Linked DNA regions of Homo sapiens: region 2 is linked to region 1. Evidence: fine-mapped expression QTL. Tissue or cell type: whole blood. Region 1 holds a variant in brackets; the other region holds the start of a gene. All regions are shown on one strand. Distances are from middle to middle.

Evidence for each region. PIP is the estimated chance that this variant, and not a neighbour inherited with it, causes the effect.
Region 2: it holds the start of GSPT1, and the variant in region 1 is fine-mapped to the expression of GSPT1 in whole blood (TOPMed, PIP above 0.99). The same link has a PIP of 0.9 or more in lung.

Annotation. Positions count from the first base shown.
Region 1 is chr16:11,855,503-11,863,492 of GRCh38, forward strand. No RefSeq gene overlaps it. Among named protein-coding and RNA genes, the nearest start is that of RSL1D1, 8.0 kb to the left of the region's middle. The variant A/G (reference allele first, on the strand shown) is at 4,313.
Region 2 is chr16:11,911,963-11,919,952 of GRCh38, forward strand. It overlaps GSPT1 (G1 to S phase transition 1), which reads right to left and starts at 3,994. Exons shown (of 15, transcript NM_002094.4): 1 at 3,407-3,994. The coding sequence starts at 3,758. RefSeq lists silencers at 3,124-3,173, 3,214-3,453, 3,544-3,613, 4,324-4,383 and enhancers at 3,438-4,375, 3,984-4,133, 5,434-5,934.

The DNA of each region.
Region 1 (7,990 bases):
TTTCTCTCCCTGTTTCCCTCTCTCATTTACTCCCTCCCTCATTACTTGTAAGGCAGCCCTGGAGAGAGGGAAGCCAGCTGCCATGTTGTGAGGACACTTGGGCAGCCACACAAGTGAGGTTGGAAGTGGATCCTCCCCGGGTCCAACCTTGAGATGATTGCAAACTCAAGAGGCCCTGAGCCAGAACCACTCAGCTAGGTTGCTCCCAGATTCCTGACCCATAAAAACTGTAATATCATAAATGTGTGTTCTTTTAAGGCACTAAATTGGGGTAATTTGTTATCCATCAGTAGATAACTAGTACAGATTAGTATACCTCCTGTCTTCAGACTCATAGACATATTCACCTGTCTTGGAAAAGTCCTATTAGGACCTTATCCTCGGCAAGTCCCGTCGTGAATCATCATCTTCTCAAACCTGCTTCTCTTCTTGTGTGTGTGTGTGTTTTTTTTTTTTTTTTTTTTTTTTTTTTTTTTTTTGAGATGGAGTCTTGCTCTGTCGCTCAGGCTGGAGTGTAGTGCAGTGGCACAGTCTCGGCTCACTGCAACCCCTCCCTCCCAGGTTCAAGCGATTCTCATGCCTCAACCTCCCGAGTAGCTGGGATTACAGGCACGCGCCACGGTGCCTGGCAAATTTTTGTATTTTTAGTAGAGACGGGGTTTCACCATGTTGGCCAGGCTGGGCTCGAGCCCCTGACCTCAAGTGATCCACCCACCTCCGGCTCCCAAAGTGCTGGGATTACAGGCATGAACCACCGCTCCCGGCCCCTCTTGTGTTTTCTGTTTCCATCATTGGTACCACCAAGCCAAATATGAGAGTTATTCTTAACTCTTTCCTTCTCATCCCCCAAACATAGTCAATAACAAAGTCTTGCTTGTTCCTTTTTTTTTTTTTTTTGAGATGGAGTCTCACTCTGTAGCCCAGGCTGGAGTGCACTGGCGCAATCTCATCTCACTGCAGCCTCCACCTCATGGGTTCAAGCAATTCTCCTGCCTCAGCCTCCCAAGTAACTGGGATTACAAGCGTGTGCCACCATGCTCCGCTAATTTTTGTATTTTTAGTAGTGATGGGGTTTCACCGTGTTGGCCAGGCTGGTCTTGAACTCCTGACCTCAAGTGATTCTCCTGCCTCTGCCCTCCAAAGTGCTGGGATTACAGGCATGAGCCACTGCACCGAGCCCTTGTTTATTCTTTTTAAATGTCTCTTGCATGTATCCAATTCTTTTTATTCCTGCCACGTTGTGGTAGAGGACATTATCATGTATTTGTTTTTTGTTTTTTGCTTAGATTACTGCAACAACCTCTTAACTTGTCTTCCCACATCTACTTTTGCATCTTTTATTTTTATTTATTTTAGTTTTGGGACAAGGTCTCACTCTGTCGCGCAGGCTGGAGTGTGGTGGGGTGATCACAGCTCACTGCAGCCTCAACCTCCTGGACTCAAGTGATCCTCCCACCTCAGACTCCCAAGTAGCTGAAATTACAGGTGTGTGCCACCATGTCCGCCTAATTTTTTAACTTTTTTGTAGAGATGGGGTTCTCCCTATGTTACCCAGGCTGATCTCGAACTCCTGGGCTCAAGTGATCCTCCCACCTAGGCCTCCCAGAGTGTTGGGATTACAGGTGTGAGCCATCACTTCCAGCCTAATTTTGCATCTTACAGTCCATTCTCTACCCGTCGGATGGCGTAATCTTTTTAAAATTGAAATCTGATCATATCAAACTGTGCTGCATCACCTTCATTGGATTCTTGTCATTAGGATGAGGCATATTCCTTAATTTGCCTTGTATGTATCACAGTTTGCATCTCTTGTCTGGCATCCTGTGTAGTTTAGTATTTGTCCAAGAAAATAGTGTTGCAGTTTGAAAGATAAATCATATGGACTGGGCATGGTGACTCATGCCTGTAATCCTAGCACTTTGGGAGGCCGAGGTAGGATTTCTTGAGCTTAGGAGTTCAAAGCTGCAGTTAGCTATGCTTGTGCTACTGTACTCCAGCTTGGGTGACAGAGTGAGACCCTGTCTAAAAAAAAATAAGTAAAAATTTTTAAAAGATAAGTAACATGGTCACTCTCAACATGGTAGGCACTCTTCATCTGGTCCCTTTCTTTTTATCTCTCTAACTTCATACCCTGCCACTCAACCCTTCAATCTTTAAGTCCTAGTTTCAACTCTGCAGGTTCTACTTTTCTTCATACCTTCCAATGTACTGTCACTTCTTCCTGGAACACTATCACCTTGTACCTCCATATCCCATCCCCACATATATTAACTCATCCTTCTAATTTCTGCTTCAGATTACTTCTGGAGAATTGTAGCTTAGATAATCCTGTCCTTTTACCCCAAAATATTTATAGTTTTCCTACTATAATTGGCTCTCCCCCATTTGACGATAAGCTTTGAGAGGGTAGAAGAGAGCCAGTTAATGGTAGGAAAACTACAAATGGTATCTTCACTATTTTTCCTTATTTATTTATTATAAGTGACATAAATAGTATTTCTTTAGAATGAATAATGCATTAGAATGGCCTGAGACAGGGCTTAAGGGGATGAACATAGGAAACTATTGTGGTATCAAGATCTGATGGTAGGGTGATAGTGAGGACAGGGTACTTATACTGCTTGACCTGAGCTTGGACATAGAAGGAGAGAAATGTAGATTACTCCCTAATTCTAAGAGCCTGAAAAGCTGGGCAAATGGGTGGTATTAATAGAACTGGGGAAGAAAGGAGGAGCAGCAGATTTAGAGGGAAAACATAAGATTCCTTTTCAGTAGAGTGCTGTACCACATAATGATGTTTCTTTCAACAACAGACCCACATACATGGTCACGTAAGATCATAATGGAGCTGAAAAATTCCTGTCACCTAGTGATGTCATAGCCATCATAATGTCAGCGCATTCCTCACGTTTGTGGTGATGCTGGTATAAACAAACCTGCACTGCCCCCAAGTATGGCAAATATAATTATGTACAGTACATAATTACTTGATAATAATAAACAACTATGTTACTGGTTTATGTATGTACTATACTGTATTTTTTTTTTTAGGGATGGGATCTTACTACATTGCCCAGGCTGTTCTTGAACTCCTGAGCTCAAGTGGTCCTCCTGCCTTAGCCTCCTGAAGTGTTGGGCATGAGATTACAGGGGTGAGCCACCATGCCCTGCTATACTGTACTTTTTTTTTTTTTTTTTTTTTTTTTTGAGACAGAGTCTCACTCTGTCACCCAAGGTGGAGTGCAGTGGCACAATCTCAGCTCACTGCAACTTCCACCTCCTGGGCTCAAGCGATTCTCCTGCCTCAGCCTCCCGAGTAGCTGGGATTACAGGCGTCTGCTGCCATACCCAGCTAATTTTTGTATTTTTAATAGAGATGGAGTTTCGCCATGTTGGCCAGGCTGGTCTTGAACTCCTGGCCTCAGGTGATCTGCCTGCCTCAGACTCCCGAGGTGCTGGGATTACAGGCGTGAGCCACCACACCCGGCCTATACTATACTTTTTATAGTTATTTTAGAGTGTATCCCTTCTACTTATAAAAAAAAAGTTAACTGTAAAACAGCCTCAGAGAGGTCCTTCAGGAGATATTCCAGAAGAAGGCATTGTTACCATAGGAGATGACAACTCCATGTGTCAGTGTCAGTGTCCTTGAACACCTTCTAATGGGACAGATAAGATGTGGAAGTAGAAGACAGTTGATATTGATGATCCTGACTCTGTGTAGTCATAGGCCTAGGTGTGTGTTTGTGTCTTCTTTTTATTTTATTTTATTTTATTTTATTTTAGCTTGCTTTCTCTCTCTCTCTCCGCCAACCCCCCCCCTCCCACCGCCCGCCTTCTTTCTTTCTTTTCTTTCTTTTTTAGTAGAGACAAGTTCTCGCTCTGTTGCCCAGGCTGGTCTCAAACTCCTGGGCTCAAGCGATCCTACCGCCTCGACCTCCCAAAGTGCTGGGATTACAGGTGTGAGCCACTGTGCCCAGCCTGTGTTTACTTTTTTTTTTTTTTTTTTTTTTTTTTTTTTGAGACAGAGTCTTGCTCTGTGGCCCAGGCTGGAGTGTAATGGAGCGATCTTGGCTCACTGCAACCTCCACCTCCCGGGTTCAAGCGATTCTCCTGCTTCAGCCTCCTGCGTAGCTGGGATTACAGGCACATGCTACCACGCCTGGCTAATTTTTGTATTTTTAGTGGAGACAGGGTTTCACTGTGTTAGCTGGGATGGTCTCAATCTCCTGACCTCGTGATCTGCCCACCTCCGCCTCTCAAAATGCTGGGATTACAGGCGTGAACTACTGCGCCCAGCCTTTCATTTTTA[A/G]TAAAAACGCTTTAAAAGGGGCAGGTGCGGTGGCTCACACCTGTAATCCCAGCACTTTGGGAGGCTGAGGCGGGCAGATCACCTAAGGTCAGGAGTTCCGAGACCAGTCTGGCCAACATGATGAAACCCCATCTCTACTAAAAATACAAAACTTAGCCGGGAGTAGTGGCAGGTGCCTGTAATCCCAGCTACTGGGGAGGCTGAGGCAGGAGAATAGCTTGAACCCGGGAGGCGGAGGTTGCAGCAAGCCGAGATCACCCCATTGCACTCCAGCCTGGGTGACAGAGCGAGATTCCATCTAAAAAAAAAAAGTTTAAAAACGAAAAAAAGGCCGGGCATGGATCACGCCTGTAATCCCAGCACTTTGGGAGGCTGAGGCGGGTGGATCACGAGGTCAGGAGATTGAGACCATCCTGGCTAATATGGTGAAACCCCGTCTCTACTAAAAATAAAAATAAAAAAATTAGCCGGGTGTGGTGGCATGCACCTGTAGCCCAGCTACTTGGGAGGCTGAAGCAGGAGAATCGCTTGAACCCGGGAGGTGGAGGTTGCAGTGAGCAGAGATTGCGCCACTGCACTCCAGCCTGGGCGATAGAGTGAGACTCCGTCTCAATAAAGAAAAAAAAGGAAAAAAAAATTAAAAATTTCAAAAATAGAGAAAAGCTTACAGAGTAAGGATATAAAGAAAAATATTTTTGTGCAGCTGTACAAAGTGTTTGTGTTTTAAGCAAAGTGTTAACTACAAAAGAGTCACAAAGTTAAAAATGTAAGTTTATAAAGTAAAAATGTTACAGTAAGCCAAGGTTAATTTATTATTGAAGAAAGAAAAAATTTTTAAAGCCAGGCTCAGTGGTGTGTGCCTGTTGTCGTAACTACTCAGGAGGCTGAGGCAGGAGGATCGCTTGAGCCTGGGAGTTCAAGTTCAGTCTAGACAATATAGTGAGACCCCTGTCTCAAAAAAAAAAGAAAAATAAATCTAGTGTACGTAAGTGTACAGTGTTTGTAAGTCTATAGTGGTGTACAGTAATGTCCTAGGCCTTCGCATTCACTCACTTATTCACCCAGAGCAACTTCCAGTCCTGCAAGCGCCATTCATGATAAGTGCCCTATACAGGTGTGCCATTTTTAATGTTTTATACTGTATTTTTGCTGTATATTTTAGATACAGTTGCCTACAGTATTTAGTACAGTAACATGCTGTACAGGTTTGTAGCCCAGGAGCAATAGGCTGTATCACATAGCATAGGTGTGTAGCAAGCCATACCATTTAGGTTTGTGTGAGTACACCGATATTCCCACAACTATAAAGTCATCCAAAGACGCATGTCTAAGGATGTATCCTCATTAAGCAACCCATGACTGTATTTTGAGTTTGAAGTTCCAATGGTACATCTAAATGGATCTGGAATGTGGAAGAGAATATTCCTGAACTAAAAAGAAGGAAATTAGAAGTCATTTTCATGGAGGTGATGATTAAAGCTTTGTTAATAGGTGAGATTGCAAAAAAAAAGTCTAGACGAATAATAGAGTTGTAAAGAAACCTTCAATAACAAACAAGGAGGAAACAGAGAAATAGTTGAAGATGTAAAAGAAAACCAATTTAGGAGGCTGATGCAGCCGGATTACTTGAGCTCAGGAGTTCAAGACTGCCCTGGGCAACATAATGAGATCCTGTCTCTACAAAAAATAGAAAAATTAGATGGGTACGGTGGCATATGCCTGTGTCCCAAATACTCGTGATGCTGAAATGGGAGGATTGCTTGAGCCCAGGGGGTTGACGCTACATTGAGCCATGATTGCGCCGCTGCACTCCAGCCTAGGCAACAGAGCAAGACTTTGTCTCAAAAAAAAAAAGAAAGAAAGAATGAAGGCCGGGCGCAGTGGCTCAGGCCTGTAATCCCAGCACTCTGGGAGGCCAAGGTGGGCAGATCACGAGGTCAGGAGATTGAGATCATCCTGGCTAACACGACGAAACCCTGTCTCTACTAAAAATACAAAAAATTAGCCGGGGATGGTGGCACGCGCCTGTAGTCCCAGCTACTCAGGAGGCTGAGGCAGGAGAATGGCTTGAACACGGGAGGCAGAGGTTGCAGTGAGCTGAGATTGCGCCACTGCACTCCCACTCCAGCCTGGGCGACAGATCGAGACTCCATCTCAAAAAAAAAAAAAAAAAGAATGCAAACCAAGAGGGTGCCAAGTTACAGAAGCCATGAGGGAGTGGAGATATCTGAAGATGTGTTAACACTGTTAAATATTGAAGGTGAGAAGAATACATAATAATAAAAGACCATATTGTCAGCACCACAAGACAGGGTGAAAAAATTAAAAAATAAATAAATAGGCCAGGCGTGGTGGCTCACACCTGTAATCCCAGCACTTTGGGAGGCTGAGGAAGGAGGATTGCTTGAGGCCAGGAGTTCTAGACTAGTCTGGATAACATAGTGAATCCTCATTTCTACAAAAACCAATGTAATTAATTTCAACATTCGAGTACCCAGGTCTCACTGATACCATGAATACTATTAAGTTGTTTCTCTTGGAAAGTACTGAGATATCTCTCTTCAAACTTCTTGAAAATCTTTTTTGGAGGTACATAAAGTTAATTTTATTAGGGATTTGGTAAATCAACTAATTGTAAAGAACATTCGAATATGTTGCTGAATGCTAAACATAAAGTTTAAGAAACTTCACCCTTAATAATGGAACTCATATTCTAGTTCAAAATAAATATTACAATCAACTAGTAACCTTAGAAAACTATTAGACATCGTTTTTTATATAGCACTATTAAATCAGTGGTAACACATGGCCAACTAACAAAAGAAACGCCACATAGTCAATTGGTGATGTCTGGATTATCTGAAAGCAATTTAATACTCAGCATATTCTTGGTACTGAAATCTGCTAAGTAATATTAACCTAAACATAATTGAATCAAAGGTAAAACAATATTGCCCAAATGTAGAATGTGACATTTTAAGGAAGGTACAAAGGACATGGTGTTTTGGGTCAGAAAGATCAGTCTGAATCCCAACTCCATGATTTACTAATTGTTTAGCCTTGGGCAAGGTGGCTTAATCTCCCAAGCCTCAATGTCTTCATCTGTTAAATGAAGCTGGTTCCCTCGGATTTAAGAGAATCTATCTTCACAGTGTCTGTCATGTTCATGATAGCACAAGGTTAGTTCTCTTCTTCCCTTTGCTGAAAATAATACAATCATTATTAAATGGATTGGAAAATGAAATTGTTCATCTTAGGGGCCAAAAGAGCTTAACTGCATTCAAGCAGGGAAGAAATAGCCAATCAGTAAAGAAACTGATATTTGATTCTGATTTGGGGGCGAGGGGGTGGAAGGCTGGGGAAGAGAAACAAGAGAAATATGATATTGCCAGAGAAAGAAATGTAAAGAGGTTTTCTGTAGAAAACCTGACTTTATTAACTTAGGTTTGCTGTTTATTTTTAACTCTTTGTCCTCATACAATCTATGTGGGTATCACAAGTACACCATTTTGCTGCTAGGTATCATAGTGTACACCAACCCCACTTAATACATGATTAACAAACAGGCTTTTTTTTTTTTTTTTTGAGACGGAGTCTCACTCTGTCGCCCAGGCTGGAGCGCAGTGGCGCAGTCTCGGCTCACTGCAAGCTCTGCCTGCTGGGTTCACGCCATTCTCC
Region 2 (7,990 bases), 56 kb after region 1:
GTTTATAAGTGTGAGCCAATGCGCCCAGCTTGTACAGTTGAAAAGGGTGAATTTTACAGTGTGTAAGTTAAATGTCAATCATTTAAAAAAAAAAAAAAAAAAGGCCAGGCGCGGTCACACCTGTAATCCCGGCACTTTGGGAGGCCAAGGCGGGCAGATCACCTGAGGTCAAGAGTTCAAGACCAGCCTAGCCAACATGGTGAAACCCCATCCCTGCAAAAACACACACACACAAAATAGCTGGGCATGATGGCAGGTGCCTGTAATCCCAGCTACTCGGGAGGCTGAGGCAGGAGAATTGCTTGAACCTGGGAGGAGGAGGTTGTAGTCAGCCGAGATCGTGCCATTGCACTCCAGCCTGGGCAACAGAGCAAGACTCCGTCTCAAAAAAAAAAAAAAACAAAAAAAAAACCTCCTCTTCCAATAAATAAGGCATTCAGCAAATACGGAACACTACAAAACAGAATGTTTCTCTTTAAAATTCAAGTTCCACAATACAATCTGCTAAGTTTTGGAGACAGTGCCTCCTCCAAGTAAGTACTGAGGGCTGCTGGTTTTATTCCATGCTTGTTTCTTAATGGCAGTGAGTTCTGAGAAGCATTAAAGGTGGGATGATGCAAAGAACACCACATCATTACTTTAGAAGCTCTGGCTGTTCTAAAAAGTTCAAGTAACCCTAAAATTACTAAACCAGTTTCTTATCTAACAATAAAAAAAACTAGGTGCAAATTGCAACTTAAATACATCCTATCAGATAAAATGCTTGTTCTAATATACATTAAGCCTTGTCTTCTATATTTTTATTCACTTGGGGACCTCACTTTTTAAGGAGAATCTCTTGGCCAATTTACTTGGCTCTAGAGAACTGTGCTTAAATGAATTACACTTAATTACACTTAAATGGGTTCCACTTAATTATTTCTTAAGGAACCTATATTCTTTAGTTTTCAAAGAGATCCAAGGTCAATACTGAATCCCAAGGTCTGACTCTCCAGGCTCCTTCAACAGCTTTCCCGGCATGCAGTTTAAAAACACACCCAGCACAAATTTCGGCTATGGCTTAACTAAAGAACAGAACATGCTAGCCCTATTGTCCACTTCCTCGCTATCAAAAAAACCTTGCAAACTTTTTGGTTCCCCCTTTGTAAGTTCCAATCCAGGTGTTATTTCCTATTTATCCCCCTGCTTTTTATAAGCACTGATTGTTCTCCGATGCTGGCTTTTTATGGACTTAATAGTCTGGAACATGCAATCCAACAGTCTCAATATAACCCTGGACCTCAACTTAGAAAATCAGTTCTTTTCCAAATAGACATCCTACATAGGATAATTTTTTAAAAACATGAACTGGCATTTTGGTACAAGCAATTGGTAAAGTCGGTAACACCAAAATAGTTTTTTGATTAAAAACAAGAAAGTTGACCATGCTGTACGGATTCTCTTACTGACAGCTACTTCCCTACAGGTTTTCGCATCTCCAATTTCTAGCACTGTCAAAGAGAAAAAGATTAGGTGTAACTACAAATTAGCAACTATCAGGAAGAGAGAAAGCCCGCATAAGAGGTAATACCTAGTCACCAACAGTGACCATTCTAGACCAAGGTTGGTTATCCCCGGATGACTCGCTGGACAGGCTGTAAATGGAGTCCTGAGTCTAGTCAGAGTGGTGCTGGTGGCTCCACAGAAAGGAGGAAGAGCCAAGAAAGAAAATGGCTGGATAAACGGAATCTGCAAAGTAAGGTAGGGAATGGGCACTTTTAGGAGCTGAGAAGTGAACTAGGTTAGGCAGTCAAAATGGCTTGATGTAAGTCAAGAATTACAAGCTAAGCTTCCTTATTCAAGAGGAAAACATTGTCTAGAGCCGTACCACCCTGAAAGTGCTCGATCTCCTCAAAAGAAAACATCAACCACCCACACAAATAAATGCCACTGTCAACAAAACCACCAAATCAACCGTGCTGACGTACATACGTCATCAGAGTGTTTCTCCAGACACTATCCCTTTACCACGAAAGAGCAAACGGTGACAAAAGTTTCTGTAGAAACCAAACTCCTGGAGCACTTTTATAATGTCCACTTATCTAAGAACCACCACAATACAGAACTTTAAAGAGAGAAATCAACAATATGTTCTCACTTAAAATGCGCTGGATGTCATGACCCACCCCACTAACGTCCTGGCTAAATGATGAAAGGACGTTCAGCCTTTTCCTTCCTTTTTCATTTTCTCTTTAAGGAAACACTGATAGTTCCTAAAATAAGCACCATTAGGAAGAGAATACTTAAGTTCACTCATTTGACATTCCCACAAAATCAGTACCTGAAAGCAAGCTACCTACCACAAAATAAGCACCATTATGAGAATACATAAGTTCACTCACCGGATATTCCTACAACGTCAGCACCTGCAAGCATGCTACCTACGACTTAAGCAACCCCTAAGTACGGGAAGATGTTTAAAAACCAAAGTTAACTCGAAATTTTATGGATTAGAAAATGTATGTCTACTAGCTACGGTCAGAAAGACACGTGAGAACTATTAAATTATAACAAATGCTCAAGTGTCTGAAGAAATAGACTGAACTACTGATGCACGAACACAGTGAGTTATTCCAAGCAATCTGAATAAGGTCAACGATTTTACAGCAATGAAAATTCTCTAAACGTGTCGCTGACAAAGGATAAAAGTGTAAGCTTCACTTTAAAAAGACACAAATCAATATAGTCTCCTATCACACATTAAGTGAGGAATCCTAACTTTGTGGCACTTTGTAAACTTTAGAAGCGTACACAATGCTAAGGGTAAAACAGATCTTGGTATTGATAGCCAAGTTTCTGCCCGATCACAAGGCTGCAATGCATCTTGGGATTCCTTCAGGACGGTTGGGGGCCACGGACAGTTTAAACCGTAATTACAGTTTCAATAGTAGAAAACGCAGCAGAAGACGCTCTCTCGGCTGGGCCTAAGGTGAAAGGAAAACTCGGCCATTCGTCCTCCCCAACTCCTGGGATCTCTAAACGCCCACCCAAATGACTCCTGGCTCCATCTGTCCTCATTCTGCGCCTCGTGGCAGGGATCCGCCGCGGCCCCCACTCCGTTCCATACGGTTCCCATCTCAAGTGGGTAACTGCGGACTCCAGAGCAGGGCAGGGGCGCGGAGGGGCGGCACTCGGGTCCGGGTCTTTGGGCGCGCTGCCCGCTGTCCGCTCCCCGCCCGGCCACCGCCGCGGGCCGCCCCGCGAAGGCCGGCTCCCGGGCTCGGGGCGCCCCACCCAGGCAGACGGCGCCACTGTCAGCGCCCCACGTGCCGACCGGGCCCCAGGGCCGCGCGCCCCCGGACCGCACCCCTACGCCATGTGGGCTCCGGCGCCCGGCCGGACTTCCTCCCGCGTCCCGGGCCTTTACCCGCACGGCCTCCCGCGCCGCTGCCGGCTCCGTGGTTATTGGCGGCGCCGCCAACTGGGGGTGGCGGCGCTGCCGGGCCCCGCAGGAAGGACGGCACGAACTCGGCGGCGTGGACGTTGGGCACGAAGGGCTTGGCGTTGACGTTGAGTTGCCGGCTGAAGGCCGCGCTGAGGTTCTCCCGCTGGGCCTCGGCCGCCGCCGCCAGGGAGCCGCCGCCGCCGCAAGGGCCCGGCCCGGGGGCTTCCATGTCCGCCTGGTCCCAGCAGTCAGGCGCCGAGTCGCTGCTGCTGCTGCCGCTGCTGCTCCCGCCGCCGCCGCCGCCGCCGCCGCCGCCGCCACTGCCCGGATCCATGATCGGGGGGGCCGTGTGTGTGGTGGACAGAGAGCGGGAAATGGAGGCAGGGGCGCCCGGCCGGAGAGGAGTGGGCAACGCTGACTGAGGGAAGGCGGCGGGGCAGAAGGGCCGGGAGCTAGCGACAAAGATCCCCGGCGTCGCCGCGGCAGCAGCTCCAGTCCCGACTCCACACTCGCGACGACGACAGAGGCGGCGGCGGCGGCAGCTCAACCCTCCTCCTCGTGTGTGTGAGCGGATCTCCTCCCACCCAACCACCTCCGACGGCCTCACAGCCAACCCCACCCCCGGCGCGGATTGACCCCTCGCCGCCACCCGTACCTTCGCCTCGGTAGTTCTCTGTTCTGGCCGCCCCCGTTTCCGGCTATTTAGCGCGGCGGGAGGTGGAACTACAAGTTCCGGCAGCGCCCGCGCTACCCCGCTGCGGTTTTCCCGGGGGCCGACGGGAGTCGAAGTTCAGGGACAGGGCGCAACCGGAAGCGGCTCCGGCTCCCGGCAGGCAACGCGAGGAGGCGGAGGTCTGGTGGCCGCTCGGCGGCCCCACCTGTCACCTGGTGGGGGGGCAGCGGCAGGCCCTGGTTGGTGCAGCTCTGTGCTGGGCCGAAGACCGAGAGTATTTTAGCCCATAGGAGGGGTCCACTCTGGCCTGCTGGACACAGGCTGGGGGAAAACGGACAGCATCTATAACATGGGGAAGAAAAATACACTCAGCTCCCGAAAATTCTTGTACTCTCTTTTCACCACCTTTCCTGCGTTCTCTGCCTCACAGTCTCCGTACCTTATTCTCTCTCCACCTTCTTTCTCCTCACCCCCAGCCAGATTTTGCCCTTCATTTCAAAGCCGGTGCAGATTGCAAAGCTGATTTCATTTTATGTAATCATTTCGTGGAAGAAACAATAAAACCGTGAGATATTCCGGCTTAAAACTGCAGTGTGGCTCATAAAGCGCTGGGGCCCAGGCTCTGCCCAGGCAGAAGGGATTGTTAACTGGAAAATTTCAATGACTCACCGTTTGTTTGACTAGTCATATAAAGCCTTCACCCAAATTTTTCCATCCTTTCCTCCTCCCCGCCAAAGGGTTTGCAAATTAAACAGAGGATTGCCGTATTCCATGGTGTATCCGGCTTACCTAACAGGGTTATTTTGGTGAGTCTAGCTTCCTTATGCACCATTACGTGAAGTGGTTTCCTTTTGAATGGTCTGATTTGCTCAAGAATTCCCATAGTACTTTTCATCGACTGCATCTTACACTTACAGATTAGGTAAACCTGGGAAAAGAACAAAAGCAAACGAGAAATACTTAAGAGTTCGCATTTAGGCCCTTCATGAAGTAGGAAAAAATGTTGCTCTGAGTACCTGTTAAGCTTTCCTGTAATTCACCCATGTGGAGCCCAAGACAGAGAAAAACATATTGTTAGTATTTTTCTGAAAGGAGTCTAGACAGGGTGCAACTAATCTGCCTAGAAATTACAGACTAAAGAAGCACATACATAGAATAGATGTTTCTGAACAACCTTAGGTTGTTAAAAAAAAAAAAAACCTAACAAAATCCAGATCTAGATCTGTATTTTAATTTTCTTTTTTCTTTTTTTTGAGACGGAGTCTTGCTCTGTAGCCCAGGCTGGAGTGCAGTGGCGCGATGTCGGCTCGCTGCAAGCCCGCCTCCCGGGTTCACAACATTCTCCTGCCTCAGTCTCCGGAGTAGCTGGGACTAGAGGCGCCCGCCATCACGCCCGGCTAATTTTTTTTGTATTGTTATTAGAGACGAGGTTTACACCGTGTTAGACAGGATGGTCTGGATCTCCTGACCTCGTGATCCGCTCGTCTCGGCCTCCCAAAGTGCTGGGATTACAGGCGTGAGCCACCGCGCCCGGCCGATCTGTATTTTAATTTTAAACATCTGTATTGTAAAGATAAAAGAGAACTCAGCCTAATGAGATAGGTCAAAAACGAAGCTGTCAAGTATTTTTCAAAAGAGTCCTAGGCTACAGTAATTTGAATTTAATATTAAACTACCAAGCTTTAGGGATTAAAAAAACACATACCGGCCAGGCGCAGTGGCTCACACCTGTAATCTCAGCAATTTGGGAGGCCGAGGCAGATGGATCACGTGAGGTCAGGAGTTCGAGACCAGCCTGGCCAACGTGGTGGAACCCCCGTCTCTACTAAAAATACAAGTTAGGCCGGGCGCGGTGGCTCACGCCTGTAATCCCAGCACTTTGGGAGGCCAAGGTGGGCGGATCACGAGATCAGGAGATTGAGACCATCCTGGCTAACACGGTGAAACCCTGTCTCTACTGAAAATACAAAAAATTAGCCGGGCGTGGTGTGCGGGCGTCTGTATTGCCAGCTACTCAGGAGGCTGAGGCAGGAGAATGGCGTGAAACCAGGAGGCGGAGCCTGCAGTGAGCCGAGATCGCGCCACTGCACTCCAGCTTGAGCGACAAAGCGAGACTCTGTCTCAAAAAACAAACAAAAAAAGCGATCCACCTGCCTCAGCTTCCCAAAGTGCTGGGCTTATCGGTGTGAGCCACCACACCCGGCAGAGTTTGCCTCTGCTTAATAGGAAGTTTTGGTTATAGCCTATTATTATACCTGAAGACCTCACTGAATCATACTTAACAATGTCCATTTTAAAGTTGGTATTAAGTGACTGTCAGATTTACAGAGAACTTAACAACTGTTATGAAAATTAGAACTTCATTTATGCGAGACCTGTATTGCTATTGAATAAAAGATTTTCATCTTATATTCACAAGAAAAAATACAATGTGTTCTAAATGAAATGCCTTCTCTTTCCAGATTTTCACTCCCCACCCACCCACCCCTAAGAAAATGTCAACACAATCAGCTGACTCAAATAATGAACTACACATCCTTCTCTAAGCATTTTGTCTTTGAATACTACTCTCCTCCATGTAGCACTCCTACAGCACTGAATGATCACTTTCTCATAGGTTAGTTCTTCACATCTAATTGAATTAGCAGAGTTTCCTTCTGCCTGGTACTTTTTCTAGGGACAAAGGCAGAAACTGCTCAGACTGCTGCTTAGAAAAGCAGTTGATGTCATTAATTTCCTTGTCTCTGAATAGGATAATTATGGATATTCAGGAAAAAATCCACTCCATTGGTTTTCCAAAGCTTTGACCTGCCAAACAGAGCTCCAGCGGAAAAGGGAAAAGTCTTTCTTGTTAGTTGTGCTAAGTTGTGTGTAAGTTGTGCGACTTGAGGGCAGGGTCTTACCTTAATCTTCTTTACATTTCCACTGCCTAGTGTAATGCCCGGTGTATAAAAGGTGCTTAATCAATTTAGCTGGGATGATACTGTCCTTTGATACTCATTTAAGACTGCTGACACATAGGGCTAATAATTTTATTTATTTATTTATTTTTTAAATAACTTGAGACTCTTGAGACAGAGTCTCGCTCTGTCGCCCAGGCTAGAGTGCAGTGGTATGATCTCAGCTCACTGCAACTTCCACCTCCCAGGTTCAAGCGATTCTCCCACCTCAGCCTCCTGAGTAGCTGGGATTACAGGTGTGCACCACCACGCCCAGCTAATTTTTGTATTTTTAACAGAGACGGGGTTTCACCATGTTGGCCAGGATGGTCTCAATTTCTTGACCTTGTGATCTGCCCTCCTTGGCCTCCCAAACTGTTGGGATTACAGGCGTGAGCCACCACGCCTGGCCTGTATTTTTTTTTAGTAGAGACAGGGTTTCACCTTGTTGGCCAGGCTGGTTTCAAACTCCTGATCTCAAGTGATCTGCCTGCCTTGGGCTCCTAAAGTGCTAGGATTACAGATGTGAGCCACCGCACTTAGCTATTTTAATTTAATTTAATTTTATTTTTTGAGATGGAGTCTTGCTCTGTTGCCCAGGCTGGAGTGCAGTGGAGCAATCTTCACGCACTGCAACCTCTACCTCCCAAGTTCAAGCAATTCTCCTGCCTCAGCCTCCTGAGTAGCTGGGATTATAGGTGCCCGCCACCCCCCCTCCCCAACCCCCTGGTAATTTTTCTATTTTTAGTAGAGACAGGGTTTCACCATATTGCCCAGGCTGATCTGGAACTACTGACCTCAAGTGATCCTCCTGCCTCAGCCTCCCAACGTGCTAGGATTACAGGCATGAGCCACCACACCCCACCCCAGGACTAATAATTTAGAAAACTTAGGAAAAATCAGAGTTTTTCCTACTCTCACACACAAGTCACCGCTCAACACAGAGTACAGTCC